Homo sapiens: one gene and its partners. The protein of the gene in region 1 interacts with the protein of each later gene in a pairwise test. Each region holds a gene or a part of one and is shown on either strand. Other genes may lie near its edges.

Region 1 (9,679 bases):
GAACCCCAAGGAAGAACAGTGCTTTGGGAACAAGCAAAGCAGCCATGCTTGTTAAAAATGGAGACTCTGGCCAGATGCGGTGGCTCACGCTTGTAATCCCAACACTTTGGGAGGCCAAGGTGGGCAGATCATGAGGTCAGGAGTTGAACACCAGCCCGGCCAACATAGTGAAACCCTATCTCTACTAAAAATACAAAAATTAGCCGGGCATGGTGGCGTGTGCTTAAAGTCCCAGCTACTCGAGAGGCTGAGGCAGGAGAATAGCTTGAACCCGGGAGGCGGAGGTTGCAGTGAGCCAAGATCAGGCCACTGCACTCCAGCCAGGGTGACAAAGTGAGCCTTTGTCTCAAAAACAAAAACAAACAAACAAACAAAACAGAGACTCCTAGACTCCTTTTCTGGGTATTCCAATCCCATAGATCCAATGTCAGCTAGGATCCTTTATTTTTAGTTTGCCCCAGAGTATTCCTGTCCTGCCCAGGCCAATTTGAGGAACATGGATCTATTCTCACATCCTGAGATATGCCCTGCTGCCAGCCCTTCAGCACCACTTCAGAAAATGGCTCCCAGCTTGTTACCCTTGTAATCCAGGGCTGGCAACCAGGTCTCCATCTTCACCCCCTTGTCGGAGTCTCTGTTCTGGGAACTTCCTTGTACCTAGACTACGACTGGCTCTTAATCAGTCTTCCACCAAAGGACTGAAGTCCTGCCTGACACCCAGCTGGGTGGCTGAGGAGTTGCCATGGAGAGACAGGCTTTCCTGAGAGTTTCTGCTCATCTGTGCAAGATTGACAGACATGGTATGTTAAGGTCAACTGTTTGCTGAACTGACTTAATTTCTAGGTGCACTGCCTTGAGTCTCTAAGCCTCCAATATCTCATTTTCGACCTTTTAAAACAATCATTTAAATATGTTGTAGATGGTCTTGCCAGTCAACAACAGAAACCTAATTTGCTCAACTTCTTTCTGTTCAGTCAGAAGAAAAATATTTTTCTGCCTTTTTAGCTTCCACCTTAAAATCTCACAATGAGTAAACCTAATTAATATCTGCAGATATTAGACCAGTGCAGTGGCTCACACCTGTAGGCCCAGCACTTTGGGAGGCTGAGGTGGGTGGATTGCTTGAGCCCAGGAGTTCCAGACCAGCCTGGGCAACATAATGAGACCCCATTTCTACAAAAAATACAAAAATTAGCTGGGCATGTGGCTTGAGCCTGTAGTCCCAACTCCTCAGGAGGCCGAGGTGGGAAGATCACTTGAGCAGCGGCAGCTGAGGCTGCAGTGAGCCATGTTAGTGCCACTGCACTCCAGCCTGGGTAACAGAGTGAGACCCTGTCTCAAAAAAAAAAAAAATCTGAAGATATTAAAACAAGAATATCACTTCACTGTTATGGTAAGTATTATCACTTTCACTGATTCTATATTACCAGTGGAGGAGTCTCTAAAAATTTTATCAACTATAAGCCAGGGCCCAAAGTAATGAGAAATACATGTAATAAACCAGTGGTCCTCAACCAGGGGTAAATTTGCCTTCTAGAGAACATCCGGCAATGCCTGAATAGGGGTGGGAGAGTGCTACTGGCATCTAGTGGGTAGAGGCCAGAGATGCTGCTAAATATTCTACACTGCACAGGACAACCCCGTGCAACAAAGAGTTATCTGGTCTATAACATCAACAGTGCTGAGGTTGGGAAACCCTGTAATGAACTATGTGTCACTATCAATTATAGTTCCTGATTCATTATCCTTGTGTTTAATATCTTAAAATCAAAAGTCTTTATAAAAGCAACGAAAAATCTGATCTACACTTTAATTTTAAAAAGGGGTAATGAGGTTATGAGTAATAGGATCTATATTAGACATAACAGGGATTAGAAAGCATTTGATCAAAGGTGGAAAACTGCAGTAAACAGATGTATAAGAGTTATCTATAATCAACTCAAGTGAAACCACAGACGGCTGTGGGTCACAGAGAGATTGCACGGGAAGACAGCATGGGAAATAACACTCTTCTGCATGTCATAGATTTTTAGGTGCTGTCACTAGCCTAGTAAGGCAAGATGCCTGAAAACCAGATAGAAAAGACTGTCCTCCTTCAGTAGCCAGGATGCTGAGAGAGCTCCTGATAAGACTAAGATAAAAATAAGGATGGATATCAAAAGTAATATCTAGAGGAAAGCAAATGCTTTATCACTGTTAATTCAAGCTGGTCTCAATGAATGATCATACTTGGAAAATATCCTTACCTCTCATCCATCTTCTCATCTGTAAAAAGATTAATTACACCTACCTCCTGGGCTTATTGTGAAAGTTAAATAAGATAAAGATGAAACAAGACAAACGCAATGCCTGCCACACAGGAGGCATTCAGCAGAGGGTAGCTACTGGTATTTCCCAACTTCGCTTTCCTCTGCCTCTGACTCAAACCAGGCCCCATTAAGGCACATAGAGAATTGTAGCTCTATGTTCACATGTATAGAACTCCCAAGAGGGCAGAATGGGGCTCTCCATGGCATGATAGAGTCAATACATGACTGCACAGCAAGGTCCCTTTCAAAATATTTCAAAGATAGAAGGACCTGATAGGTAAACATATACCGGCTTAAATATGCAAAATACATTCTCCTTCATACTGATGCTCCTTCATTCGGTAAAGGGCCAGAAAGAGTTTCACTTTAAGGGAAAGATATAGATAAGATCCTCTTTCTTCCCATTGCTGTCTAAGGTGCTTCAGGAAAGAACACTGAAAACTGATACAGATCCCAAATGTAAAAAGGCCATCACATAGCTCACAGTTAATTATAAGTAATTTTAATGAAACAATTTGTTCCCTCAGGTTTCCATGTTCTTCCCAGAGGTGTAATGCTATACACCCAAGACACACACACTTATAAATTTGTAATAAACGCAGCCCTCCAGCTCACCACAGTTCTTGGCTGCTGCTTAGCGACAGGTGTCACATTCGCGGTTGCCAGTGAGCCCAGAGGGTGTAATTTCACTTCTACATAAAGAAGCATAATCGATAGAACCAGAACCACCCAGTAGGAACAACTGCACCATTCCTGACTCATCACGGAGCTTGTTTTCACAGACAACAAAATTCACCTCAGTTGGGCTTTGCGTAAATATAGAGTAGTGTGATGGGGCCTGCAAATTGGGTGAAGGTGGTTCACGGGGATGCCAAAGCCCTAGTCCTCTTCGGCCTCCCTCACGCGACAGATCTAGTCTGAGCCTGGGCGGGGCACCGGGAACTCGATGCAGCTACCTAGGGAGGGAGCCCTGGCGGTCCGCCCCTCCCGCTGCAGGACCAGCTTTGGCGACCACTGCGGTGGCCAGCAGCGCGCGCTGAGCGAGCCCTGGGAGCCGAGCCGCCCGGGGACGCACGGCCGTCCCTGCGACTCCCCATCCCCCAAACCCCCACCCGCAGTCCCACCCCCACCCCCACCGCACCCCGAGCCGCACCGCCTCCTGCGCGGTAGCTGCCAGCCCGGGCCGCGGCGGCGCGCCCTGCTCACCGTGACACCGTACTTGAGCGCGATGCCCTGCAGCGTGTCGCCCGCGCGGACCCGGTGCTCCACATGGCGCTCGATGACGCCGGCGCCCAGCGGCGCCCGCACGCTGGCGGTGCTGCCGTACGAGCGGGTCTTGGTGCGGGCCAGGCTCAGCGACAGCTCGGCCTCCTCGGACTCGGAGCCGGAGCGCGAGCGCGGCGGCGGCGAGGGGGCCGAGGGCCGCGGCGCGCGGGGGCCGCCTTCCCGCAGGGACAGTGCGGGCGAGGAATCCGCCATGGGTCCTGCCGAGGCCGCCGGGTCGGGGAGCTTGCCAAGGGGGCGGCGCCTCCTCCTCCTCCGCCGCCGCCGCCGCCTCTTCCTCTTCACAGGGGCTGCAGCAGGCCGTTCCGCGGGGGCGGCGGACGGGAAGCCGAGGCGGGGAGCCGCAGGCCGGGCATGGCGGGCGCCTCCTCCTCTGCGTCCTGCCTGCCCCGGGCGCCCGCGGCACACGCACCTGCAAGGTTAAGAGCGAAAGCAGCTCCCGCCGCGGCCTGCCGGTACCGGGAAGACCCTGCAGAGCGAGGGAGCCGGGGAGCGCTGAAGCCCGCGGCCGTTGGGGCTAAGAGAGGGCTATCTGCAGGCGTCCTAGGCCCCAGGTGGACCCCTGCTCCATTGGCGATAGAGCCCTGGCAGAACCCTGCCCTGGCCACGGCGAAAAAAAAAAAAAGCGTTGCTCTGCCTCCTTTATTGATTCCCCAGCAGGAGCCAGCTTGCACAGACCTTCCAGCTCTGCCAATGCCAAGGGTACTTCCCTCCCCCCACCCCAGTGACCTCAAAGTCCACGTCACAGTAAAACTTAAGATCATCAAACACACACAGACAGCTTCTCCAGGTCCATCTCAACAGCCTCAGAGTCCAGTCCTTTCAACATTGCACTAGGAGGGATAGTGCTTCTAAGGCCTAATGGGTGGCCTCAAAATAACCCCCCTAGTTGTTCGGGTTTCACACTTTGTACACTAGTGCCAATTTAAGTCCTGGCTGCCTCGAAAGGCTGGCCACATACAATTCATTCTCCAGGCTCAGTAGTTGGAATTTACTGTCTGCATTCATCTTCTCTTCGTCAGTTTATTCTTTGACACCCTGAAATCGCATCTCCCTGCCCCGTATTGCTATTAATATTATAACCACCAAAGACCTCTTATCTGTACTCTTCATTTGAACACCGTCTACTCTTGAACACCCTTTCAACACACTGTATTATACACAGAGTGGGTACACATTTACTAGCATCTAGTGCCTGGTTTCTGTGTTATTTTGGACAGCTTTCCAAGAAGAGGTACCTTGTAGGAAGGTCCGGAGCCTGGGGGTTTGATTCGTTGGCTGAAGTTTTGGTATGTTGCTGTGCTGGACAGAGGCAAAGCTAATATTGCTCAGGAGAGAAAGGATGGGAGAGGAGCAAGCTTCCACAACACCATCCCACTCAAAACTCCTACAATGGCTCTCTGGGGACAACAGCATTACTAAAAACCTACATTGGCATTCAAGCTATTATTTCTATTTTTATTATTCATGGTCTGACCATACCCCATCTATAACTCATTCTGTATACTCTACATATTCCTGCCAAACAGAGCCTCTGAAACTGGCCTCCTTGTTCCTACTTTCATACCTTGCATGTTATTCCCTCCAATGGTAACACTCTTCCAGTACCCTCTATTACATTGTTTAAATCTTTAAGGTCTGTCTCAAATGATACATCCTCCATGAGATTTTTCCTAATTCTTCCCAATGGTCCCTTTTTCCCACCTGCCCAACTGTTACTGTTTCTTCTTTGAACTCCAAGAGGTTTGTATTAATACCTCTGGTTTAGTATTTAACTCTCTGTGTTTTGTGTTTGTACTTGCATGTACATGCATGAGCTTGTCTTATCTCCTCCAACAAATACGTGCTCCTGGGAGGCATAACTGGGTCTTACTCATCTTTTTAGCTCCAGCAGTGCCTAGCTCAGTGGAATAAAAAAAAAAATAAATACATAATTACAAGTGGTTGAATTGAGGTGTAGTAAAAAGATCCTGAATGCTAATTTAGATTGTTTAGCATAAGTCTGCCATGCATAAACTTTTGGGTGGTATCCAGTGTGTCCATTTCAGGACCCAAGAGAGAGGCAGAATTTGAGTCTCAGTATATAGACAAGATCTGGTAATGTTTCAAGAAAGAAGTCTCTTCCTTCAAAGAGTTTACAATCTAGGAATGAGACAGCATATAATGTTTTCCACTAAGAAAAAGTTTACTGCATGGCTGGAAGTTTTAATCTGAAGATTAAAGAACTGAGCCAGGCGCAGTGGCCCATTCCAGCACTTTGGGAGTCTAAGGAAGGAGGATAGCTTGAGCCCAGGAGTTCAAGACCAGCCTGGGCAACATAGTGAGACCCATCTCTACAAAAAATACAAAACTTAATCGAGCATGTGGCCTACTCCTGTAGTTCCAGCTACTTGGGAAAGTGAGGTGGGAGGATTGCTTAAGCCCAGTAGGTGATCTCTGCAGTAAGCAGAGATCATGCCACTGCACTCCAGCCTCAGCAACACAGTGAGACCCTGGGGTTTTTTGTTTTGGTTTGGCTTTGGGGTTTTCTTTGTTTGTTTGTTTGTTTTGAGATAGAGTCTTGCTCTGTTGCCTAGGTTGGAGTGCAGTGGTGTGATCTCCGTTCACTGCAAGCTCCGCCTCCCAGGTTCAAGCAGTTTTCCTGCCTCAGCCTCCTGAGTAGCTGGGACTACAGCATGTGCCACTATGCCCGCCTAATTTTTTGTATTTTTAGTAGAGGTGGGGTTTCATCATGTTGGCCAGGCTTCTCTCAAACTTCTGACCTCAAGTGATCCATCAGCCTCAGCCTTCCAAAGTGCTGGGATTACAGGCCTGAGCCACCACGCCTGGCCAGGCCTGTTTTTTTGTTTTTTTGTTTTTAAAAAAAAGAACTGAGTTACATGAGGTGTTATTAGATGTTCATTGTTTTCCTTCTTAAACCAGAACTTCAAAATTGTTTTAATATGTATCTACCTACAACATAGAAGTTCATCACAATTAAAGATGAAACATTAAAAGCATTTCCTTTGAAGGGAATGGTAAGAAAAGGAAGCCTATTACTGCCTCTATTTAACATTGTTTTGAAGGTCTTTGCCAAGGCAATTTTAAAAAGAAGAAAAGGAAATGAAGATTGAAAAGAAATCAGCTGTTATTTACAGATAGTAGGCAATACTAAAATGTTTATAGGCAACACATAATGAATACATTGGAACTGTTCAAACAATTGAGAGTTCACCAAAGTTAAAAGATACAAGCTCAATATACAAACATCAATTGCATCACTCAATCATATAAGTGTGAAAAAGATGACATTCCACATACCACCAAAAATACCTAGGAATAAATTTAACAAGAGAAAATTGTTCCTGGTGGCGTAGGAGCAGAAAAAAAAATTTAAGGTAATAAATAAAAAGATAAAAAATAAAAGAAAGAAAGAAAAGTGTGTATTGTATGGAAAATATAAAACTTTTTTGAAGTACATAAAAGAAATATAAATAAAAGCAGAGATATACCATGTTTGTGAATGGGAAATGCAAAATAATGAAAATATCATTTTCTTTACAAACTAATGTTAAATTCATTAAAATTGCAAACAAAATCTCTATAGCATTCTTCAAAGGATATGACAGAGTTATGCTGACATTCATATGAAAGATAAAGCACTAACAAGGGCCAAGGCATTCCTGAGGAAGAATTAGGAAGGAGGCTTACCCTTATAGCCATGAAGACTTAAAACTATGAGAACTAAAGCAATGTGGGACTGGTACTGAGGCAGGAAAACATAACAAAGGGACAAGGAAGTAAGCCAGCAAACAGGTTCACATATATTGGATAACTTAATCTATAGCAGACGTAAAGTTACATATTCAATAAATGTTGCTGGAACAGTTAGTTTTCTGTGTGAGAAAAGATGAAATTAGATCCCTGTCTTATACTACACATCAAAATCAATTATAGATTGATTAAAGACATAATTGGGAAAAGCAAACATTAATGCTTTTGCAACAATATTTTTATAACCTTGGGATAGCAAAGGGTTTTTTAAACAAGATACCAAAATCATATAATTCACACATCACATAATTCATCCATTTAAAGTGTATAATTCAATGCTTTTCTGCATATTTATATTACATTACTAATTTCTTGAATTGTGACAAATGTACATAACATAAAATTCACCATTTTAACTATTTTTAAGCTTACAATTCAGTAACATTAAATATATTCACAGCCCGGGTGGTGGTTCTCGCCTGTTATTCCAGCACTTTGGAAGGCCAACGCAGGTGGATCGCTTAAGGCCAGGAGTTTAAGACCAGCCTGGCCAACATGGCGAAACCCCATTTCTACTAAAACTACAAAAATTAGCCTGGTGTGGTGGCAGGTGCCTGTAATCCCAGCCACTTGGGAGGCTGAGGCAGAAGAATCGCTTGAACCTGGGAGGCGGAGGTTACAGTGACCCGAGATAGCAACACTGCACTCCAGCCTGGGCAACAGAAGGAGACTCTATCTCACAAAAATAATAATTAAATATATATATAATGTATATATAAATAATATATATATATTCACAATGTTATGCAACTATCACCACTATCTATTTCCGAAAGTTTGTCATCACTCCAAAAAGAAATTTTTTTTTTTTTGAGACGGAGTCTCGCTCTGTCGCCCTGGCTGGAGTGCAATGGCACAATCTCCACTCACTGCAACCTCCACTTCCTGGGTTCAATCGATTTTCATGCCTCAGCCTCCCAAGTAGCTGCACCAAGATTACAGGCCTGCACCGCCATGCCCAGCTGATTTTTGTATTTTTAGTAGAGATGGGGTTTCGCCATGTTGGCCAGGCTGGTCTTGAACTCCTGACGTCAGGTGATCTACCCACCTCGGCCTCCCAAAGTGCTGGGATTCAAAAATAAATTTTTAACCATTGAGCAATAACCACATTCCAGCCTTCCTCAGTCCCTGATCACTTCTAATCTACTTTCGGTCATATTAATTTGACTCTTCTAGATAGTTCATAAGTGGAAGCATACAATATTTTTCCTTTTGTGTCTGGCTTATTTTACTTAACATAATGTTTTCAAGTTTCATCCATGTTGTAACATGTATCATGTTGAGTTTGGGGGAGCTCTTTGTATATTTTGAATGTAAGTCCTTTAGCAGATACATAGTTTTTAAATAATTGTTTCCCAGTCTGTGGCTTGCCTTTTAAATTTTTTAACAGGGTCTTTCTCAGAGCAGGAGTTTTTAACTTCAATAAAGGCCAACTTGCTGGGTGCAGTGGCTCATGCATGTAATACCAGCACTTTAAGAGGCTGAGGCAGGAGAATCCCTTGAGGTCAGGAGTTTGAGACCAGCCTGGCCAAAATAGTCATATTTTTTGGTCTCTAAAAAAAATAGAAAGACGTAGCCAGTTGTGGTGGCACATGCCTGTAGTCTCAACTACTCACAAGGCAGAGATGGGAAGATTACTTGAGACCAGGAGTTCGAGGCTGCAGTGAGCCATGATCGCCCCACTGCAGTCCAGCCGGGGGGACACAGTGAGACTCTGACTCAAAAATACATACATGCATACATACATACATATGTCTAACTTGAGGACTTCTATTTTGTCTTTCATGGATCATACTTTGGTGTTGTGTATAAAGGTACAACCTAGATATTCTATGTTATTTTCTGGAAGTTTTATAGTTTTGTGTTTTTGTGTTTTACATTTACTTCTGTGATCAATGGATTTCCCCCTCCTTTTTTTGAGATGGGGGTCTCACTATATTGCCCAGTCTGGTCTCAAATTCCTGGAGTCAAACCATCTTCCCACCTCAGTCTTTTGAGTAGCTGGGAGTACAAGCAAGCACCACTGCACCCAGTGGGCTGATTCATCTTGAGTTAATTTTTGTGAACAGTATAAGGTCTGTGTTTAGATTCATTGTTTTACATGTGGATGTCTAGTTATTTCAGCAACATTTGCTGAAAAGACTATTTTTTCTCTATTAAGTTGTCTCTGCTCCTTTGTCAAGAATCAGCTAACTATATTTGTGTGGGTCTATTTCTGGACATTCTATACTGTTCCATTGATCTATTTGTCTATTGTTTCAAGAATACTACAG
Region 2 (10,510 bases), on another chromosome or scaffold:
CAAAGGTGAGGCGAAGCGTTACAACCCATAGCACATGTTTCAAAGCAGCTTGACGTGGTAGCCAAGGGCTGGCTGGGCCTTCCACCTTCGAGCAGTTGTTGCTGCTTGCCTGCTACTCGAGGGAGCTGAGACGCTGACCTTGGGGCGGCCTGTCACAATACATACGCCCCACCACATGTCAGTGTTATTGCAGCACAAAGGAGGTTACTGGCTGACAGCAGGCCAGTTGGGTAGCTATCAAGCCATCCTTTTAGACGACCCCGAAATAAAGCTGCAAACCACCAGAACTCTAAACCCTGCTCCACTATTCCCTGCCACCGAGGAGCTGGAGAAACTCTACATAACTGTCTAGAGGTCATAGACCAAGTGTTCTCCAGCCACCCGACCTAAAGGCTGTAGCCCTCCCGCGTACAGACTGACCTTGTTTGCAGGTGGGAGTAGCTTGGTCACCGACAGGAAGAGCAACACCATGTATGCCGTGGTGACCTCCTCAGAGGTAACAGAGGCAAGAACTTCGTCGGCAGGAACCTTGACACAGAAGGCAGAGTTAATCGCCCTTACAACTGTCCCAAGTTAAGAGCGCCAACATACACGCTAATTCCAAGTACGCATTCATGATAGTTCACGCCCACAGAGCTATCTGGAGGGAAGGAGGGTGGCTAAGAGCGGATAACACCAAAGTTAAAAATGCTAAGCAAGTGTTAGAATTGTTAGAGGTGGGCCGGGTGTGGTGGCTCACACCAGTAATCCCAGCACTCTGGGAGGCCAAGGCAGGTGGGTCACCTGAGGTCAGGAATTCGAGACCAGCCTGGCCAAAATGGTGAAACCCCGTCTCTACTAAAAATACAAAAATTACCCAGGCGCGGTGGCGCGTGCCTGTAATCCCAGCTACTTGGGAGGCTGAGAATCACAAAAGAATCGCTTGAACTGAGGAAGCTGAGGTTGCAGTGAGCCAAAATCGCGCCACTGCACTCCAGCCTGGGCGGCAGAGGGAGACTCCATCTCAAAAAAAAAAAAAAAAAAGTTAGAAGCGATAAAGGCCCCACAGGAAATAGCCATAATGCATTGCCCTGGCCATCGACGCAGTAATTCCGAAGTGGCAAGGGGTAATGTTTTCGCAGACTGCACCGCCGGGCATTCAGCCAGTGACAGCATCGAAATCCAGGCGCCCTTAATTTCCCAAATAGACTTCACGGCCCTCGAGCCCCGGTATGCTTCTGAAGATAAAAAGGCTGCAGAAGATAAAGGATTCAAACTAAAGGAGGAAGGGTGGAGGCTAGAGAGGAAACAGCGCAGGCATAGGCTGGGCGGCAGTGCATCTCGTCCACCCGCTGTTAAAGTACGTTCACGATAGCCTGCACTTTGAGAGAGTCGCTTCATTGGCCTTTGTACAAAATTATTTGAAAGGGAAAAGACTAAAGGCCCACGTAGAGAATATCATTCAACACTGTCATCTGTGCGCCCGGAATGAGCCTAATAATCATAGCCGAGGGCAGCCTGGGCAACAAGAAAGAGGCAGTCACTCACCAGAAAACCAGCAAATAGACTTCACACAGATGCCACCAGCCCCTGGGAATGCAAATACCCCCTAGTTCTAGTGGGCACCTTCTCTGACTGGGTGGAAGTGTGCCCATGTCACTCCGAATGAGCAACTGAAGTAAAGTTTTGCTCAAGGAAAGCATACCACGATACGGGCTCCCCGACGTAATCCAAAATGATAATGGGCCTTTGTGCACCTCTGAGATAACTCAACAAATGAACGAAGCATTGGAAATGAAGTGGACGCTGCAGTCAGTGTGGAGACCTCAATCTTCTGGACAAGCTAAGAGAATGAACCGCAGCCTAAAAACATTCATTGCCAAGTTGTGTCAAGAGGCTCCGTTGAAATGGACTCAGGTACTTAGCATTGCACTGCTCCCTGTAGGTGGGATTAAAATAAGTCCCTGCGAAACCGTCTTTGGGAGACCCTTTGCAGCCAATCTGTCTCGGGCCACCAAAGTGCCCCTAGGTAGGGAGTCGGCTATTCAGAATCATGTTGCTCACTTAGGACAAACTCTTAACGTTTTGCATAAGTTTGCTTCCAACACGGATGCGGTGAATTCCACAGACACCTGCCACCCACTCCTACCTGGCGATCAAGTGCTGCTGAGGGAATGGAAGGAAGCTGCCGCGATGGGAAAAATGGAAGGGCCCTACCACGTGCTCCTGACCATGGACGCAGCATTGAAGCTGGCAGGCATCAAGCCTTGGGTCCATCACACATGAGTGGAAAGATCCCTGCCGGCCAAGAGCCCTGCAGCACAGGAATCTCTGGCCACGGCTGGGAAGCAGAACCCCTAGAAGGCCTGAAGTTTCTATTCAGAAAACGCTAAGACTTTCTCTTCTAGCGCTCCGTCTTGCAATGCCTGCTCTTACCTCTCATCTTCTCTTACGCTGGGCACAGGACTAGGCAGATAACCTGCAGCCAGCCTCCTTCAGGGTCTGTGGCCTCTCACCCCTCTCTAGCACCTCAGGGTTGCCTTGGCGGGGGTCGCCCATCCAAGGGAAGGACTGGATTTACCTGCAAACCTTTTTGGGAAATCTAAAATCTTGGACTGGGTCACAAATGACAGGAGTAACCAGCGCAAATGTCTCAGAGTGGCCCATAAACAAAACTTTAGAAGGCCCAGGGCACAAAAGGCCATTCTCAGTAAACAAAACAAGGGATGATGCAACCGCTTTAGCTATGCCCTTGCTGAGTCCGAAGGTGGATGTCCAGGCTATTGTACCACAAAATGTCCAGTATAAAAACGGCTTTCTTCGAATTTGGAATGGATTTATTTGGCTAACTGCCTCCACCGGACATTTAAACCAAATAGCCCCCTTACGCTACAAACGACAGAACCCCTCCCTTGACCACCGACTTTAACATAAGTCGAATCATGAGACAGATTCCGCCCACCGCACATTGACCACTGGCCTAACAACTCGAATCGTGGGACGGATTCCGCCGCACATTGACCACCGGCCTAATGTAACTCAGGTTATGAGACGGATTCCGCCACACATTGATCACCGGCCTAACGTAACTCGGATCATGGGACAGATTCTGCCGCACATATTATAGTGCTACAACAAAGAGATTTGGGTTTTGTTTGTTTTTTTTTGAGACAGAGTCTCTGTCGCCCAGGCTGGAGTGTGGTGGCGCAATCTCGGCTCCCTGCAACCTCTGCCTCCCGGGCTCAAGCGATTCTCCTGCCTCAGCCTCCCATGTAGCTGAAATTACAGGTGCCCGCCACCACGCCTGGATAATTTTTATATTTCTTTTGTAGAGACGGGGTTTCACCATGTTGGCCAGGCTGGTCTCGAACTCGTGGCCTCAAGTGATCCTCCCGCCTCAGCCTCCCAAAGTGCTGGGATTCCAGGCGTGAGTCACTGCGCCCGGCCCTCAGTAAAGAGATTTGTTTGCCACCAACTGGTCCCAATGGCCTTGCCTACACTGGTATGCCCCTGACGGAAGCCAGTGGCTTTGTGGCACCATTTTATGGCCATGGCTGGCCTCGGGCACGTTGAGACACTGCACTCTAGGCCTCCTATGGGCACAGGGACCTTGGTAAAAACCATCCAAAATCCAGTCAATCTCCCACATATGCGTAACAGATGGACAAGGCCAGTCTTTCACAGGTACGGTCATCTGGCCGTAATATTTATGCCCTCAATGGGCTTAGAAATGGTCATATGGCACACAGAGGCACTCGCTAGTTTTACGCAGTGAGGCTTAAACGACAGTCTCCAAAGTGTTTCCCGTGTGAATGCTGAAACATACCATAGGTGGAAAGCTATCCTGCAAAATCAAATGGCCCTAGACATTCTAACAGCGGCCTAGCAGGGACCCTGCACCCTCATCAGAACCGAATATTGCATGTATGTACCTGACAATTCCGGGAATATTTCTCTGGCATTAAAAGCTATCATCCACCGGGCGCGGTGGCTCACGCCTGTAATCCCAGCACTTTGGGAGGCCGAGGCAGGCGGATCACGAGGTCAGCAGATAGAGACCATCCTGGCTAACACGGTGAAACCCCGTCTCTACTAAAAATACAAAAAATTAGCCGGGCATGGTGGCGGGCTCCTGTAGTCCCAGCTACTTGAGGGGCTGAGGCAGGAGAATGGCATGAACCCGGGAGGCGGAGCTTGCGGTGAGCCGAGATGGCACCACTGTACTCCAGCCTGGGCGACAGAGCAAGACTCAAAAAAAAAAAAAAAAAGGGCTATCGTCCACAGATGCAGGTCATCTCCAGCCCTAGGTTATCGGTTAATGACCGAACCACATCATGGCTTAGCAGAGGGTCTCCCTCGGGGCTGAACGTCCTCGCAGTCCAGGCCGTCCTTGCAGGCACCGGCATCATGTTACATTGTGGAATGTATTGCTGTTGCACATTGTTCCAAAACATCCCTCCAGCTCATACTATTTCAACAGGCGCTTTCTCTAGGCCCCCAAAACAGAGAGTACTACTGGGAACAAATCAACATCTTTCACTCCAACACTGCGTTTGGTGCCCCGTAACAATGACCTCCTATCAGCAGGAAGTAGCCAGAAAGATTATAATGCCCCATCCCCCCATGATTCTCATAAGAAATAAATATACAAGCATGATAGCAATCATGCATAATTTGACAGTGGGGATTGTGGCAGGCCAGGTCTCACTAACGGCTGAATAGGCCGGCCTCCACGACAACTGTTTCAGCACTGACCGGGTGGTGAAGTCAAATATTAAAAGCTGAGAGGGCCAGCGCCCTTCAACAGAGGCTGGAATGTAACAAAAGCCCACCAAGAGTTTTGCCCAGGCCTCTCCTGGGCCTTGAAGCATGACAAGATAACAAAGGAATTCTTAACAGGACCCGTTTAGGATTAAACAAGTTTTACTGGGGTCTAAAGGAACGCCCCAAACCTCCATGATTTAGCAGGAGAAAAGATAAGGGGAATCACCCCAGCACCTGGACCCCTCCAGATTAAGTAAATTTACTGAGGCTCCAGAGGAAGTTCTTCAGGACTCAGGCCTTAATTATAGATTAGAAGAAGTTCATCACTGTGTCTTTAGCTGAATGCACACTTACACGTAGACCTACAGCTTCGAAGATATATAAGCTCTGGAAAACTGCAATTTTGAGCTGGTCTAGTGCTATTTTCCCGGGCTTCTGCCTGTACCCGGTGACAGAAGCAAACTCTCTTATTTCCCAGCTCGTCTGCATCTCGTTACTGGGCTGAGAGAATAAGGAGCGAATAAGCGCCCGGCCGTCGGTTGAGTCTGGGGACGCTGTGACTCACCATTGGCTCCGGCCCCAGACGCTGTGCTGGGGAAGGAGCGGGAGGGGATGGGAGGGGAACAGGGACACCCTGTACTCCACAGACACAGCCACCATGGGTCCTCTTGCAGGCTGAGAGAGAGGCTGTCCCCTGCATTTGGGACAAGGTGCCTGCCTCCAGTGAGGGGACAGCAGGTTCCTTTGCCCATGGATCCAGGAAGCTCCCACAAGGGAGTGGGGTGATCTTCCCCAAGGTAGAGAGGGCAGCAGCCTCGGGGCCTTTGGCTGCATGCCCAGTGGGCACAGGATGTGTGTGGACGGGCCACAGAGTGGGCCGCCCTGCAGGGCTGGAAGCCGCAGGGCAGCAGGGTATAAAGGGGGTGGGCCGAGGGCTGAGGCGTCCACGGCAAAGATGGCTCTGCTTCTGCTGAGCCTGGGGCTGAGCCTCATCGCAGCCCAGGAGTTCGATCCCCACACCGTTATGCAGAGGAACTACAACGTGGCCAGGGTGTGTCTGCGTTGGGGTCTGTGGGGAAGGGGCCAGGCTTCAAGGCACCTGTCTTCCCCCAGCCTGGGGTCTCTGACCTGTGACCAGGGCAACTGGTCCAAGGGGAGCCCACCTCTCCTCCCCAAGCTGTGACAGCAGCCTGGGAGAGCAGGGGTTACTCCGGGAGGGTCGGGTGGGAGAGGCCTGGGAGAGTGACTGGGGCCCTGAGAGGTTAGAGGGGGCCCTGGGAGGGCAGAGGGGAAAGCTGGAGAGTGGAGTGGCGGCCAGCAGGGAGATGGGGGCCCTAAGAGGACAGAGGGGTTCCTAGAAGTATAGGGGAGACCTAGGGAAAAGAGGGGGACTCAGTGGGAAAGGGTGGAGCGGGGGACCTTGAGAGGACAGAGGGGGACCTGGAGGGGCAGAGGAGAGACCTGTGGGGCAGAGGGGGCCCTGGAAGGGCAGAGGGCATTCTGTGAGCAGAGGGGGGACCTTGGGATCAAAGGGGGGATCTGGGGACATAGGGGAGACCTGGGGGGCAGCGGGGGCCCTGGAAGGGCGGAGGGCATTCTGTGAGCAGAGGGGCGACCTTGGGGGTAAAGGGGGGATCTGGTGACGAGGGGAGACCTGGGGGCACTGGAAGGGCGGAGGGGTTCTGGTTGGGAGCCAGATGCTAAGGGGCCGGGCCCTGGGAGGGAAGACTGTGGGCGCTAAGCATCCCCAGGGCTGTCCCGCGGCCCCCCACCCACTGGAGCTCTTTGTCTTCAGGTTTCAGGGGTCTGGTATTCTATTTTCATGGCCTCAGATGACCTGAATCGGATTAAAGAAAATGGAGACCTGAGGGTCTTCGTCCGGAATATTGAACACTTGAAGAACGGCAGCCTAATATTTGATTTCGAATACATGTGCGTGTTGCCCATCTCAGCTGGCATCAGGAAGACCCATGCCCCTGCCACCCCAACGCATACTCTCACTCTTGCACACACACGCTCGCACACTCACTGACTTGCACTCTGGTGAGAGCCTGAGCCTGTGCGTGTGACCCTTGGGGGCAGGGTGAGGTGGGAGCAGGGACTTGGTCTGCCTGGCACTGTGCTCTTCCCTGAAACATAGAGATGAAATCGCCCCCTTCCAAGGCTGGGGTGAGGTTCGAGGAGATGAGGGTGTCCGGTGGGCTGCAGCAGGGCCCAGCCCAAGAACTTGGGGCTGTGGAATGAGGCCTGGGCATTGGGAGGGTGAGCCTGTGCCCTGGAGGAGGGGTGCTCTCTGCCATCGCACGTCCAGGGGGCTGGAGCTCCACTCCCGGCATCTTCCTGGCTGGCTTCCAGGGTGCAGGGGGAGTGTGTGGCTGTGGTCGTGGTCTGCGAGAAGACAGAGAAGAATGGGGAATACTCCATCAACTGTAAGTGGAAGCCAGGCTCCTCCTGGTCTCACAGTCGGGGGTCTCCTTTCTCCAGGGCCTGGGCCATATTCTGGTGAGCACTGACTCTGGGGATTTTAGTTAAGCCCCTGACAGCTTGACCCTGAACTGGAGGGACCCATCCTGGCACCTACCCAGGGGGGCTCCTGGCCCAGGGGAAGCAGGGAGGCAGGTGTGTCATGCTGAGCTCTGGGGGGTGAGCCCACTGAGGGGCCACCAGGGTCTGCAAGCCAATGACAAGGAGGGAGGGGGCTGTGCCGCTGCTGCCCGCCCCCTGTGCAGGGGTCTCCGCTGGGTGAGCACCGTGGGCTCCTCCCCTCCCGCCTCAAAAGGCCACTTGACCCCCCATCCTCACTTGCGGCCACACAGCACGTGTCACAGGACCCTGAGGGTGGCGGGGCCAGGCCACGCTGAGCCATGTCTCCACGCAGATGAGGGCCAGAACACAGTGGCCGTCTCGGAGACTGACTACAGGCTGTTCATCACCTTCCACCTCCAGAACTTCAGGAACGGGACCGAGACCCACACGCTGGCGCTCTATGGTACCTCCGCTGTCCCCCTCTGACCCCCTCGGGGACCCCACCTCCTCTGAAGTCCGGCCCAACCCTGGGCGGAGGAGGGTCTCGCAGTGGCCCTGGGGTTTGGAGAGGTGGTTCCCGTTGGCTATTCCTTCCCACAGACACACCGTTAGGGTGCTGGGTGCTTCAATCTGTCACCTCCCATCTCACTTGGCACAAAGCCCCTCTCTGGTCAGGGCGTGACCCCCTGCCCAGCCTCAGCACTTCCTGAGCACCCCCAGCAAGGCCCAGCTTCACACAGAACCAACTCTGTTCCCAGCACGGGTCCCATAGCTGGAACCCTCCTTCCTGAGCAGATTTGAAGAAACCTGCGAAAAGTACGGACTTGGCTCACAAAATATCATCGACTTGACCAACAAAGGTCAGCCCCACTGCTCCCGGACCAAGCGGGAGCCGGGACAGGGTGGGGATGGGAGGTGTGCCTGCGGGGTCCCTGTCCCTGCGCTGAGAGCCCCCTCTGTCCTTCCAGATCCCTGCTACTCCAAGCATTACAGGAGCCCGCCCAGGCCTCCCATGCGTGAGCTGCGACTCGGGACGGGCAGGGGGCTGGATGGGGAGAGCTTGGGGCCAACGTCAGAGGCTGCGGGGTCCCACCCCAGGAGGTGCCCATCCCTCCCCCTGGTCTGGGAACCGAACACAAGGTGCTTTGGTGAAAGATGCTGTGAAAAGCATCCTGGAGTCGGGGCAGTGATGGGGCCTTCCAGGGTGGTAAGGTCTGAGCAGGAAGTGAGATGGGGCCCTGTGTGAGTCTCCAGGGGCTGATGTCACCATATGCGGGTGACTAGGACAACCAGGATTTACTTTCTCACAGCCTGGAGCCCGAGGTCTGAAACCCGAGGTCCGCAGGGCTGTGCTCCCTCCACCAGCTCCCGGGAAGGGTCCTTCCTGCCTCTTCCGGCTGCTGGGGGCTCCAGGCATCCCTGGCTTGTGGCTGTCACTCCAGCCTCTGCCTCTGTCTGTGTCTCCTCTTCTGTCTCTTCTAAGGACACTTGTCATTGGATTTCGGGCCCATCTTCATGCAGAATGATCTCCCGTCAAGACCTCAACTTCACACCTGCAAAGACCCTTTCCCATCAGATGCCCTTCACAGGCTCCAGGCACTAGGAAAGGAGCATGTCCTTTGAGGGACACCACTCAGGTCACCACAGGCTCCTTCTCCGAGCTGCCCCTCCCTTCTCAGACATGGTCCCAGCCCAGTAAAAACCCCCAGGGCCCCCTTCCCTTCCCAGAGCCTGAGCCTCCCAGAGATACGCCTCTGAAGGCACCTCTGCATTTCTGCACGAGGGTTCCTGAGGGTAAAGGAGTGGATGTACCTGTGGTGCGTGGTGGCCCCAAGATGCGGGTGAGATGAGATGGCAACCGGCAACCAAGGCCCTACCCCTCCCCTCTCCGCCCCTCCCCTCGCTGACCTTCCCCTCCCTGTCCCTCCCCTCTCTGCCCCTCCCCTCCTGTCCCCTCCCTGGGCTCAGCCACTGCCTTTGGGGGAAGATGATCAACAATGTCACAGCTGAGGCAGGTGCCTGCGCCCCCGCCTCCATGTTTTGGTGAATAAAAGGGAGGTACCAGCCAATCTGCGGTGACTTTGTGGGTTAAAAGTGATTGTTGGTTGGGCCTCTGTCAGAGATGTGAAAACGACTGCATTTGTATGATGCTCTCGAAATCACAAAACCGCAGAGGGGGACATGAGTCGGTGATTTCCAGAGGTTACAAATGGAAGGTAGGAAGTCAGCCAGAAAGGGGCACCAGGAGGGGCCCTGGTGACGATGGAACGTCCTGCACTGTGACCCTGGCGGTGGACATGACCCTGCACGTGCAGCAAAAATGCGGCTCTGTCTGAGGAGCCGCTGGCCCTGCCCCCTGCCCGGGGGAGAACATTTTGCAGCCCGAGACCCAGAAGCGTCTGTGCTGGGGGTGTGCGCTGGGCGGCCCCAACTCTGGCGTCTGCGTGAGCTCTCCAAGGGGTCATCCTGTGGGTCACAGTCCCGGGTGCTCAGGAAGAACCTGTCCCCAGAGCCAGTGCCTGCTTGTAAAGGAGCTAAGTGGAGCTGTCTTAGGATGAGGGTCTGGATGCCACCCCCCACCCCACCTCCATTGGGAGCTCCAGGCTATAGGGTGAGGCTGGGTAGAGTTTTAGTGCCCGCTGTATGGGTGCCAGGCTTGGGGAAGGAGCAGCTCCATTGGGATGGGAGGGAGTGGGAGGCACCTGGCATTCCCATGGCTGCCCAGCTTCCGGCCCCTTGTTTGGATCTGGGCCCAGCCTACTGAGCTGCAGCGGGAACGCGAGAAGCTGCCCACTCGGCGGGGCCCGTTGGTGCACAAAGCTGGCCTCGGAGGAGCAGAGCCAAGGCTGCCAGAAAGGGGTGCTGGGAGGCCACTGCCCATTGGTGCAGGGGGAGCCTCTGGGCCCCAGAGGAGGCCTGGGCATGGGGGTAGATGTGGACATAGGCAGAAGCCTTTAGCCCCACCCCAGAAGACAGCACAAAGGGGAGCTGAACCAGAGCTGAGTGTCCCCAGCACCCACCCCACCATCAGCTGCTCAGCACCAGGCTGGCCCTGGCCTCAGACTCCTGCAGCCTCAACACCAGGGGCCTCAGGTGGACAAAGGAACAGGGCAGTGGGCAGGGCATGAAAGAACAACCAAGAGACCACCCTCGTTGTTTCCATTTGGGGTGGCACTCAGTCAAATAAAAATCTAGTGAGGCCGGGTGCAGTGGCTCATGCCTGTAATCCCAGCACTTTGGG
Region 3 (10,184 bases), on another chromosome or scaffold:
CCCACATTCATCAGTGGCCTTAGTGACTGTTTTCTACAGAAAGGGTAATATCATGGGCTGTATGGTCAGGCCCTGGGCTATTGGATGCTATCCGGTACTATAGGGTGAGTGGAAGGAGAAACTGGAATATCTAGATGATCTTCCCCATTTCTCCAACAGCTCCAGGACAGCTTTTAAATTAGAACTGACAAAGGCTGAGGGAAGTTTTAGGTAGGTGGAAAGGAAGGTAATGTTTTTATACCTGCAATCTTTTTGCATAACAGATTATTTTGTTATTTGGGGTTAATAAAGGCAAAGAATAGGGTAAGAAAAAGCTCTTTTTGTCTTTCTCTAATGACCAGGGGAGTCTCAAACTCTAATCCAAGGATTTACGAATGAGAGAGAAAGGGATTTCAAGAAGTGTATTGTGATAAAATCTGAAAAACTAAAATTTCCAAACTGACTCTAAAAATGCCTTACAAGATTTTAAATTAAATGAGTTTTAAAAAAATTACCCCACTGGAAATCCTTTACTAGCAAAGATAGAAAACATTAGATTTTTCGTTATTGCTTTTAGCAAAAGTCGGGTAATCTGAGGAAATGTAAAGGCTAGGCTGTACTTTCTTGATATTAAGCGAAGTTTACCTCCTGCCACCTGCATGGAGTAACCAGTTCAACGTGGTTGAAGTAACCCTTCAACGTGGCAGAAATAGAAAAACTGAATTTTAAAATGCAATTAATAGAATTAGATAGCTTTGGCTGGACATGCTACTATCACTTCTGAAAATACTCTTGTTGCTTTTACTGCTTCTCCTAACCCCTCCAAGAATGGCAGACACCAACCATCAAGCCTTCCACTGGCTTCCTGTCCTGCTTTACAGACACGCACAGGCACACCTGAAATGAGACATACATACATTCCCTCGCTGGAAAATAAAATGAATTACTCCAGTAGGAAACAAATTCTCCAACCCTTCACCAATTCAGGCATTTACTAAAGATAATCTAAGGGGCTTTTTCTTCCTTTGCTTCTCAAAATTCCCCTTTAGGTCTCTGCCCCAGAGCCCCCTCCCGGGAAACCACATTTGCTCCACTGCACTGGCTTCCAGGCATGGAAGGGAGGTGTATCTGGAGACCTGGGAGACACCTTGATTTCCTTCCCCAGCCCCTTCCCGCAGAGCTGTGGGAGCAGATACTGACTTTTTCCTTCTGACCTCTCTAGGGATGCCTTTCCATTAGAGGGCAAAGAGGAAGAAGAGGAACTGGGTTAAAGATGGCCTCTGCTGAACACATATGTCAAAATCAGCTAAGCTAAACCGAATAGGGCCCAGTTAACCTCAACGATGTTCACCACAACAGAGCAGGCTGGAAGATTCCCCCACCTCTCAATTTTAGGTGCTTGCTTCCAAGGGCAGGCTCCCTTTGGAAGCAGAAGCTGAACTTCTGGCTAGGAGGGGCTATTCTAGAAGAGACCGAAGCTAAATCTGTGGCCCAGGCCTGCACACCTCCATCTGCAAGGATGTCCACTTTGAGATGCAGAAGATGATTCTCCCTGCCCGCGTCGGGGCCGACTACGAGAGGCAGTGCAGGCTCCAGGAGGAAACAGCCCTTAAAGTACTTCTCTTATGTTGGCCAGGCACCTCGCCACCCACCAGAGGGCTGTCATTTTACCTAGAGGCCTGTACTACCCAGTCACTAGCCTCGCCCAGAATCTCCAGGGCTCTCGAATCGGTCTGGCTGGGGAAATGGAGGAGGTTGGGGAGGGAGGACTCTCAACGGGATTCACGAGGGACAGGGAAATGCCGCGCGCCCTGGGGATAAATCTTAAAAAATAATCCCTCTCTCCCCGGGAGCGGGGCCTAAGTGGCTGCACCCCCGGAAGCCCAAGGGCCGAGGTCCTGGAGCTGCCGCTCTAGGGCGGTCCCCTCGGGATTTCTTCCAGGAAGGAAAGCAAAACACAACAAAACAAATCCAGACTCCACGTGGGGCTGGAACCCAGTCCCAGCCCTGCTGTGTTCTAGCTGGTCCCGGGTTTGGACGCCAGCGAAGGAAGGCGCGCCCGCGCTCTCCATCGGGGGGACTCGAGGGCAGCGCCGTGCGGGGAACATCCCGGCCAGCCCCGGCCATTCGAGGGGACTTGCGTCCCAGAGGAATTGCCCTCATCTCTCCCACCAGCGCCGACAAGCTCAAACAATGGCGCGGACGCCCACCCTGGTGGCCTAACCAGGACCTGGCCCCGCTCAGCCGCCAGGCCTTCCGGGACAAGCCCCTTCCTGGCACTTTCTCTTGGAGCGCTTTGGGGAGAAGGGAGGGGGACTGGGCTCATTTGGAGGAGCAAAAGACAGCCCTCGCGGAAAAAGAAAGAAAAATCAGCAAAATCGCCTTAGCAGTTCAACCAAAGGTCAACAGCAGCGTTTCCCCAGCAGCTGACAGGTCAAATGGGCAGGAAACAACTGCGGGGAACAAAGCCCCCCGCTGTCCGGCAGGGGCGAACCCGGCTCCTCCGCACTGAACAGTTTTGTTGTGCTTTTTGGAGGGGAGAGGTTTCCGCCCCCTTTCCAGCTCCCTTCCTCCCGGGTGGACAGGTCGGAAGAGGAGCGGAAAGGAAAGGAAGGGAGGGAGGCGGCGAAGGCGCCTGCGGGGGGGAGGAGCGGCTCTTTGATGGGTGTGGGGGGGTCTGAACTGCCTACCGGGCTCGGAAGCGCAGACCCTACCCGCGCGGAAGAATGCGCGGAATGCGGCGGCGGGAGGCGGAGGCGCAGCGCGGCGGGGGGCGCCCGGACCCCACGCGCCCTGCCCGCTCCCTAGCCCGAGGGCCGCGGACCCACCCTGCCCTGCAGGTGTGGCGGGCGCCAGGTCCCTCCAGGGACTCGGACAGCACGCGATTTTTCCAGGATTTCCGACTACCAAATGTGACAAGACAGTCTCGCCGCCGAGAGTTTCGCCAGGGCTCGCTAAAATCCGGCACGCGCCGCCATCAGATAGTCGAAAATCCGGGCTGAACAAAAGGTGATCATTCTCCGCTGCCCGGATTTGCAGGCGCTAGAGGACCGGTTCCGCCCGGCGTCCCCCAGATACCCAGTCCTTCAGCCTCCCGCTCCCAGAGCCTGGATCTAGCCCGGGACGGGGATTGGCCACCTTCCAAGCTGAGCTTGGAGTTGGGCAGCGGGAACGCAGATACAGATCGCTCTACACAGTGTGTGCAACCCAATCTCCCTTTCTGCATTTGCCAGGGTCTTGTTTTCAGTGAAACTGGCAAGGCCAATTGTACCTCGGCGCCCACCCCTCTTCACCTTTTCTCCACCTCTGGGATTCTCCCGGTCCGGCTCAGTGTAGGGCCCCAGCACGCCAAACCAACAGGCCTATCTTGTCCCCACGCGCCCCGTGGTACTTGGAAACTGTTCCCGGGACTCAAGATGGACCGCGCAGAGGAGTCGCTTCATCCTCGAGGCTAGGACCGTTAATGTCAATAAACGGGGCCTCGCTAGGACGGTGCGGAATTGCAGGTGACCGGAGAAACCCGTCCGCACTTTCCCTGAGGACTTGAACCTCGCACTTGCACAGAAACCTTGCAAACCCCTACACACCAACACACACAAAGGGGCGCGCGGGGATCCCCGCAACCACGAATCACGCCGGGGACTCCTTCCCGTGCCAATAAGGCGCAGGCCGCCAAGACCCCCTCCATCTCCCCGACTCCAGCTAGCGCCCGGAGCCCTCGTTTACCTTTGAGCAGGCAGATGTCGGTGCGCTCGGCGTTGCGGCGCAGCGCCTGCACCACCAGCGACACGGTGCTGTCCTCGCGGAGGCTCTCGGCGCGCGGGCTGCGCTCGTCGTAGACGATGACCGCCGAGTAGAGGCCGGAGCGCAAGCGGGCGCGTACCTCCTCCTCGGCGGGCAGGATCTGCTCCAGGCTCACGGAGCCCTTAGCCCGCCGCCGCACGATGGTGTTACAGCGCACGTTGACCGAACCTAGGATGTAGCCCGCGCTGTGCGCCAGGAACGGTCTGCAGTCCAGCAGCAGGCACTTGCCGCCGCTCGGCAGCCCCAGGGTGCCGTGGCTGCCGCTGCCGCCCGCGCCGCCGCCATTCTCGTCCCGGTTCATCAGCCTTTTGAGCACACTGCAGTCCATCTCCCGCAGCTCCTCCATCGTCACCATGGTCGCCGGGAACCGAGGCGGCTGGGCGCGCGAGGAAGAGAAGAGAACCCGGGCCGCCTAGGCTGCAGAAAGGGGCGGGCGAGAGCTAAGAAGGGACGCCTGCAGAAGTGGCCGCAAACTTGGTCCTCAAGGGCTCCCGCGGGAGAGCCTCTTCTTCCCTGTCCCCTTCCTCCCGCAGCCTCGCGGTCACATAGCAGTCGGAGCGGCCTCGGGCGCCCAGCCGGGCGGCGCGCAGAGCGGAGGGGGAGGCGCCGGTGGAGGAGAGTGTGTTTACGAGAGAGGACCGCGGACTCTTTTCGGCGACGGCCTCCCGTGTATTTTTGCCGGTCGCGCGGCTCCTGTCGCCACTGGCGCCAGCGCTGCCCTGCCTACGCTCCTCCGGCGCTCAGCGCACTGCCCCAGCCAGAGTTTTCTCCTCGGCTTAGAGGTTTATTAATGCTCCTCCGCGCTCCCGGGGGAGGGGGCGCTAGGTACTACCCCGCCAGGCCCCGCCCCGTTCCATTCCGGGCCCCGCGCCGTCCCCCGCCCCCCGCGCTGTCCCCCGCCCCCCGCGCTGACTCCCCGCCCCCTCCGGGCCCCTCCTCCCACCCCCTCCCCGGAGCTTGAATGGAGCGCGGCCGCTGGCTCCCGGTCACGGGAACTCGACGTCACAAAGAGCGGAGTAAACAGGGCGCCGGGTGCTCGCCATCAGGCCCATTCATAAAACCGAGGCCGAGAGGAAGAGGGAGGCGGCCTCCGACCCGCCGCCAGCGGCGGGCAGCGCCCGGACTTTGTGAATGGAGCGCGCGGCGCCTTTCGCCGTCTACCCGCGGGCCCAGCCTGCGCCGCGCCTCCAGCCCGACACCGGCACCTGTGCCGCCGCTGCACCCCGCCGCTAGGCGGGCGGCGCCAAAGGAAATAGCCGGCTGAGGAGGCCAGGGCTCGGGTTTGAGCTTTCATCCCTTGGCACCTTCGCGCTTCCCCGCGTGACAGCCCCGTAGGTTTTTCCCGGTTACCCAAGTGGAGAGGGGACCGGAGCGCTGCTGCCCACCCAGCGGGGCCTGACACCTCCTAGCCCCAGACTCCCCGTGCGCTTTCGGCCCGGCCAGTCCTTTCTGAATATGCGATTCCTGAGACGTTAGCGTATGCATTAGCGTGATCGATTTTCATCTAAAGCCATTAAATCAGTTTTATAGCTTCCCCAAGAACGTGGGCAACCCCCTGCTTGGAAGATGAAAGAGAAAGTCCTCCCGCCCGAAGCCCAGGATCGGAGTGAGGTGTGGGGTTTGTTGCTTTACTACCCAAAGGGAGGCATTAATTGCCGGAATGGTGTTCCGAGGGAGGAGAGCAGGCTGCGCTCCTGTCCACGCTTCCTAAAAGATGTTTATTTAACCCTGGTCGGGGGAAAAACAAGGTTTTCGGGTTTGGGAAACGTCTTCACCCTATCTTGCATAGTTGTGAATTATCCTTTCAGGAAATGACAGGGTCCACATTTGTTGCGGAGCTGGACCCTGGAAAATGTACCCGCAAAGAATGACCTTTTGAAAGGACTTCAGCAGCTCTGGGTCCGATTCATGTTTCTGGGCATCCCTTTTTCCTGGTCACGTAGCAGCCCTCCCCATCCCCATTTCTCTTTTGCATTTAATTTCCCAGAGGCGGCTTTTGGCTGGGGGTTTGTGCACGCACGCGGTGGGGACCGTGCAGAAGCCAAAAATCATTCGCCCGACATCTTGCCAAGTCTTGTTAGTGAGAATTAATCACAGAGCAAGGGAGTTACAGGACTCGCTCGCAGTTTCGGAGGCTGCAGAGTAGCGTATTCCATTCCGGGGCGCGCGTGGAAGCCCGACCCAGGCAGCGAGGGCACCGGTACCCGCCGGGTCTCTCCCGCCCAAGCTCACCCTCTCCCCATGCCTTTGTTCCGGGCGGAGCGGCTTTCCCGAGCTCTCACCTCCGGTCCCGGGGGCCATCCCTGCACTCCCCGACCGGAGCTCGGCGGAGCCTCCACTTCCGAGACCTTCGACTGGCCTCGTCCCCCACTGGGCCCCGAATGCCTCGACCCCCGGGCCCTACTCGGATGAGCTGTAGGGGCACCGCTTGGGCAAGGTGATATTTCCTTTTGCTCCGGGCTCCAAAATGGCTTACGATGGCACTGCACGGATCCTTTCTCTTTTTAAAATTTAGTATTTTATTCATCATGGATTTTTTGCATTTTTTTTTCTTTTAAAGAGGCATTGCATCAAGATATTTCTTTTGATTACTGACTTTTCGGCGCCCTTCTTAAATGTTGCGCTCAAGGCTTGTGCTCACCCTAGTCCAGGCCCTGGAAGGAGCCACAACTGTGGACTGACCGAGGCTGCCCGGTGGCAGGACCCTGGGCGTCGGGCACTCCGGGTGGGAGATCAGTGGTCAAAGCCGCACGGCGTGGCCTCCCTGTGGGGAGGGCAAAAGGTGTCTGAGTCCAGTTTCCCATTCTGCTGAATGGGACTGTGGGGGTCTATCTAATAACTCGCTTTCGATAAGGAGCAAGGAGCCCCAGGGGCCCCGACAGTCCAAGGCTGATTTTGCTTTCCCGGGTTGCTCTCCAGCAGCTCAGAAATCCGCCGCCTGCCAGGACCCAGGGCCGGAGCTCTCCCGGCGCAAGTAAACACTGATTCCTTTACAAAGGCTTTAACAAGACATTTCTGGGAAAAGCCTCTCAGGAGGCAGGTCCGGGCCAATTTCACGCGTGTCGCAGGAGCTGGGGAGACGTCCCTGGGGCGCACGGGTCGCGCTCTGGGCCAGCTTTTGTCTACCCTGTTCTGGGGTCGCCTTCCCCGCCGGACCCGCGCCTGGCGCTCACGTGGCCAGTAAATAACAGTCAAATCCAGGGGGAGGAAAATGCCCATAGAACAAAGAGGCTTGCTTTCTGCACCTGACAGTAATCGCTGGTGGAGAAGCCCTAAATCCCGCAGGCGATTCACACGGAAAGGGGTGTGGGAGGGCGCGTGTGAGTGTGTGTGTCCACGTGTGCGTGCCCGCGCCTACGCGGCTGTTCACTGGAAGGGAGTCACAGCTTGGGACTTAATGTGTTTAAGCCGAGAGCCACTTGAATTGCGAAAGCGAAGGCCTGATTTTTAAAAAAGACTAATTTTTAAAATCCACACCCCATTGCCAACTCAGGAATTGGCCTTCAGTTGTGTGAATTTCAGCAAAGGAGATTTAAGTTACCATATTGTATTTATCGGGATACTGTGTAAACACCCTAGATATATATTTTTTAATTGTATGTTTGTGAACCATTGGTCCACAGTTAAATGAGTACAACGCGAGGGCTACTCCATGCCGGCTATAGATAAAACCTGTCTCCAATTCGTCTGCAGTCTGTGGACGAAACATAACCATTTTAAACAGGAACCTTGTGAAACAGCTTGTCAATGAGCAGATCTTGGAGAAAACAAAGGCAATTTGGAGCAAGACACGGAATGTCATTTCAAAGTTAATTTAATTAACTAAGGCATATTTGTAGGAATTGGGATGGGATTGCCCAAGGAGAGGTCTTTTATTTATATTCAGCAGTAAACCTCGGGGTGAAAGAACTTTTAAAAATTCGCTGTGACAAGTAAATCCAGCTTCTCTTTCATCAGTCAGTCCTTAGACCGACCTTATTAGTCACTGTCAGGCTCCAGCAAAACACCTGCTCTTGTTTAGGAACATTTCTTTCCAATTAGGAAGTTGTATGATCGGGGAATCTAAAGCCCGGAGTAGAATCCCCAGAGAGAAGTACAGCTTCTATTCTAGTTTTGATGCCAACCTCTGACTCACTGCTCTGTCCCAAAGTGCCTGAATAAAACTTGCCTGAAAAATCATTAATGAATTAATTAAGGTGGTGATGGAAAGAAAAGTCCTGTGGCTTTTCCTTTCTTGAGCAAAGAGGCAGCCTTGCTATTACGTCGAACTGGAACAGGAATAATCCATTTTGCACAGATCTTGTTGGTTAGGCTTCTTAGATCAACTAATTAGGGAACTTGCCCCCTGGTAGTGGGAAGGCTCAAAAGAACTGGGAGACCCTCTCCTGCTCCTGAAAGCAGAGAAGCCTGTGGTCTACACAGCGTGTTCTTAGGCAACGTTTAGAAATGGAATTGAGAAATGCCTGTCCTTCCCTACGTACCTCTGCCCATCAAGTCAGGACTGAAAGCGAAGGAAAGTCTTCAAAGTTCACACTGAACCTAACCAAAAACTCTCAAAGACATAGCCTGAGGATTTCTTTTTTTAAGTCCTGACTTTGTTACAGATCTTTTTTGTTTTCTATGCTTGATACTCTAGCACTTATTAATGATTTAAAAGGCTATGTATCGGCCAGGCGAGGTGGCTCACGCTAGTAATCCCAGCACTTTGGAAGACCGAAGTGGGCAGATCACCTGAGGTCAGGAGTTTAAGACCAGCCTGGTCAACATGGTGAAACCCTGTCTCTTCTAAAAATACAAAATTAGCCAGCATGACGGGCGCGCACCCATAATCCCAGCTACACTGGAGGCTGAGGCAGGAGAATCGCTTGAACCCGGGAGGTAGAGGTTGCAGTGAGCTGAGATCCCCTCACTGCACTCCAGCCTGGGCGACAAGAGCAAAACTCCATCTCAAAATAAATAAATAAATACAAATAAAAAATAATAAAAGATTAAGTTTCTAACCCAGGGTCTCTGCAGAAAGGTTTTAATGCATTGCTTTATTTACTGCTTTATTTTAAAACTATTCAATCTAGGCTATGCCACCATCTAGCTTGGTGGCCTTGGGCAAGACAGTCTCCTTTGGCCTCACTTTCTTCACCTGCAAAATGAAGAGTTTGGGCAGGATGGTTTCTCAGGTCTGGTCTATTTCCGACCCTGTATGATTCTGAGCAGAAGAAGACTTCTCAGCTCCGAGTCCAAGTTTCATAGGTTTCCCATCTCGCCCTCTGAAGAGCCAAGCACACTATAATGCCATAAGATAAAGGACGATCTCTAGCTCCTCCTTGTCCCTGCTTTAGAATATAAACTCATGGACAGCAGAGCTCATAGTTTTTATTTATTTGTTTAGTCACGTGCTAACGTCCCAAGCATTTTGATAAAACGTCTTCAAAATTTCAGAAACAAATTTTGGAAAGAAACACTTCTCCAAACGGGATAAAAATGAACTCGGAGGCTGGGCATGGATGGTGGCTCATGCCTGTAATCCCCCAGCACTTTGGGAGGCTGGCGGATCACTTGAGGTCAGGAGTTGGAGACCAGCCTGACCAACATTAAAAATACAAAAATTAGTCAGGCATGATGGTGGGTGCCTGTAGTCCCAGCTACTCGTGAGGCTGAGGCAAAAGAATCCCTTGACCCGGAGAGGCAGAGGTTGCAGTGAGTCAAGATTGGGCCACTGCACTCCTGCCTGGACAGGGCGAGACAGCGAGACTCCATCTCAAAAGACAAACAAACAAAACAATACAAAACAAAACTAGGTTATTTGGGGTCACTCTAGCTGTGCAGATTCTCTTATTCATTCAACAAACGTGCTAGACTCAGCAAGAGGTGCGGGAAGTAGGGGGACAGATTTGTCCAAAACACTGTGCCTTCAAAAAGCTGACAGTCTCATTGGTCTAGTCAGGGTGTGATTGCCACTGTACATTGCCAGAAAGCAGGATCTAACAAAGTGTCATTAGAGAACAAACAGCATGCCAGGAAGATTCAGAAGAGAAAGGGATGGAGCCGTGTTGTGAGATTAGGGAAATGGAGGAAAAGGCCATCATGAATAAAGTGCATTTCATCTACTTAAATGTTATCCTTGAAATGTCCTTGAGTTCTCTTGTAGGTTTTTTTTTTTTTTAAACTGTTATCTCACCTCTGACATTCATTCTGCCCTTGTGCCTTGTATTCTTTTCCTTTCATTTGTTAGCATCTCTCTTCCCCAGTGGGTTTGCCTGCTAAAAATAGATGAGCAATTGGTGTGAAACTACAAGGGAGCTAAGATGATGCAAAAGCTCTGTAGAAAATCTGTGCCATGGATGAGCAACCGACCTAGATGGTAGCTGACCTAAGTAAGGGCCCGACTCTTTCATTGCCATCTT

What was found.
Region 2: the proteins of LYSMD2 (region 1) and LCN9 interact in binary tests that used the Homo sapiens proteins (3 or more experiments, as listed by UniProt).
Region 3: the proteins of LYSMD2 (region 1) and DUSP4 interact in binary tests that used the Homo sapiens proteins (3 or more experiments, as listed by UniProt).

Annotation. Positions count from the first base shown.
Region 1 is NC_000015.10:51,733,835-51,743,513, forward strand, and holds the start of LYSMD2 (lysM and putative peptidoglycan-binding domain-containing protein 2), read right to left. Parts: upstream 3,822-9,679; 5' UTR 3,789-3,821; coding exon 3,516-3,788; intron 3,229-3,515; exon of another isoform or gene 3,106-3,228; intron 1-3,105.
Region 2 is NC_000009.12:135,657,624-135,668,133, forward strand, and holds LCN9 (epididymal-specific lipocalin-9 precursor), read left to right. Parts: upstream 1-5,685; 5' UTR 5,686-5,698; coding exon 5,699-5,794; intron 5,795-6,538; coding exon 6,539-6,675; intron 6,676-7,098; coding exon 7,099-7,172; intron 7,173-7,621; coding exon 7,622-7,732; intron 7,733-8,027; exon of another isoform or gene 8,028-8,064; coding exon 8,065-8,120; 3' UTR 8,121-8,129; intron 8,130-8,237; 3' UTR 8,238-9,338; downstream 9,339-10,510.
Region 3 is NC_000008.11:29,346,141-29,356,324, forward strand, and holds the start of DUSP4 (dual specificity protein phosphatase 4), read right to left. Parts: upstream 4,545-10,184; 5' UTR 4,139-4,544; coding exon 3,706-4,138; intron 2,666-3,705; exon of another isoform or gene 1,651-2,665; intron 1-1,650. UniProt on the Homo sapiens protein: Regulates mitogenic signal transduction by dephosphorylating both Thr and Tyr residues on MAP kinases ERK1 and ERK2.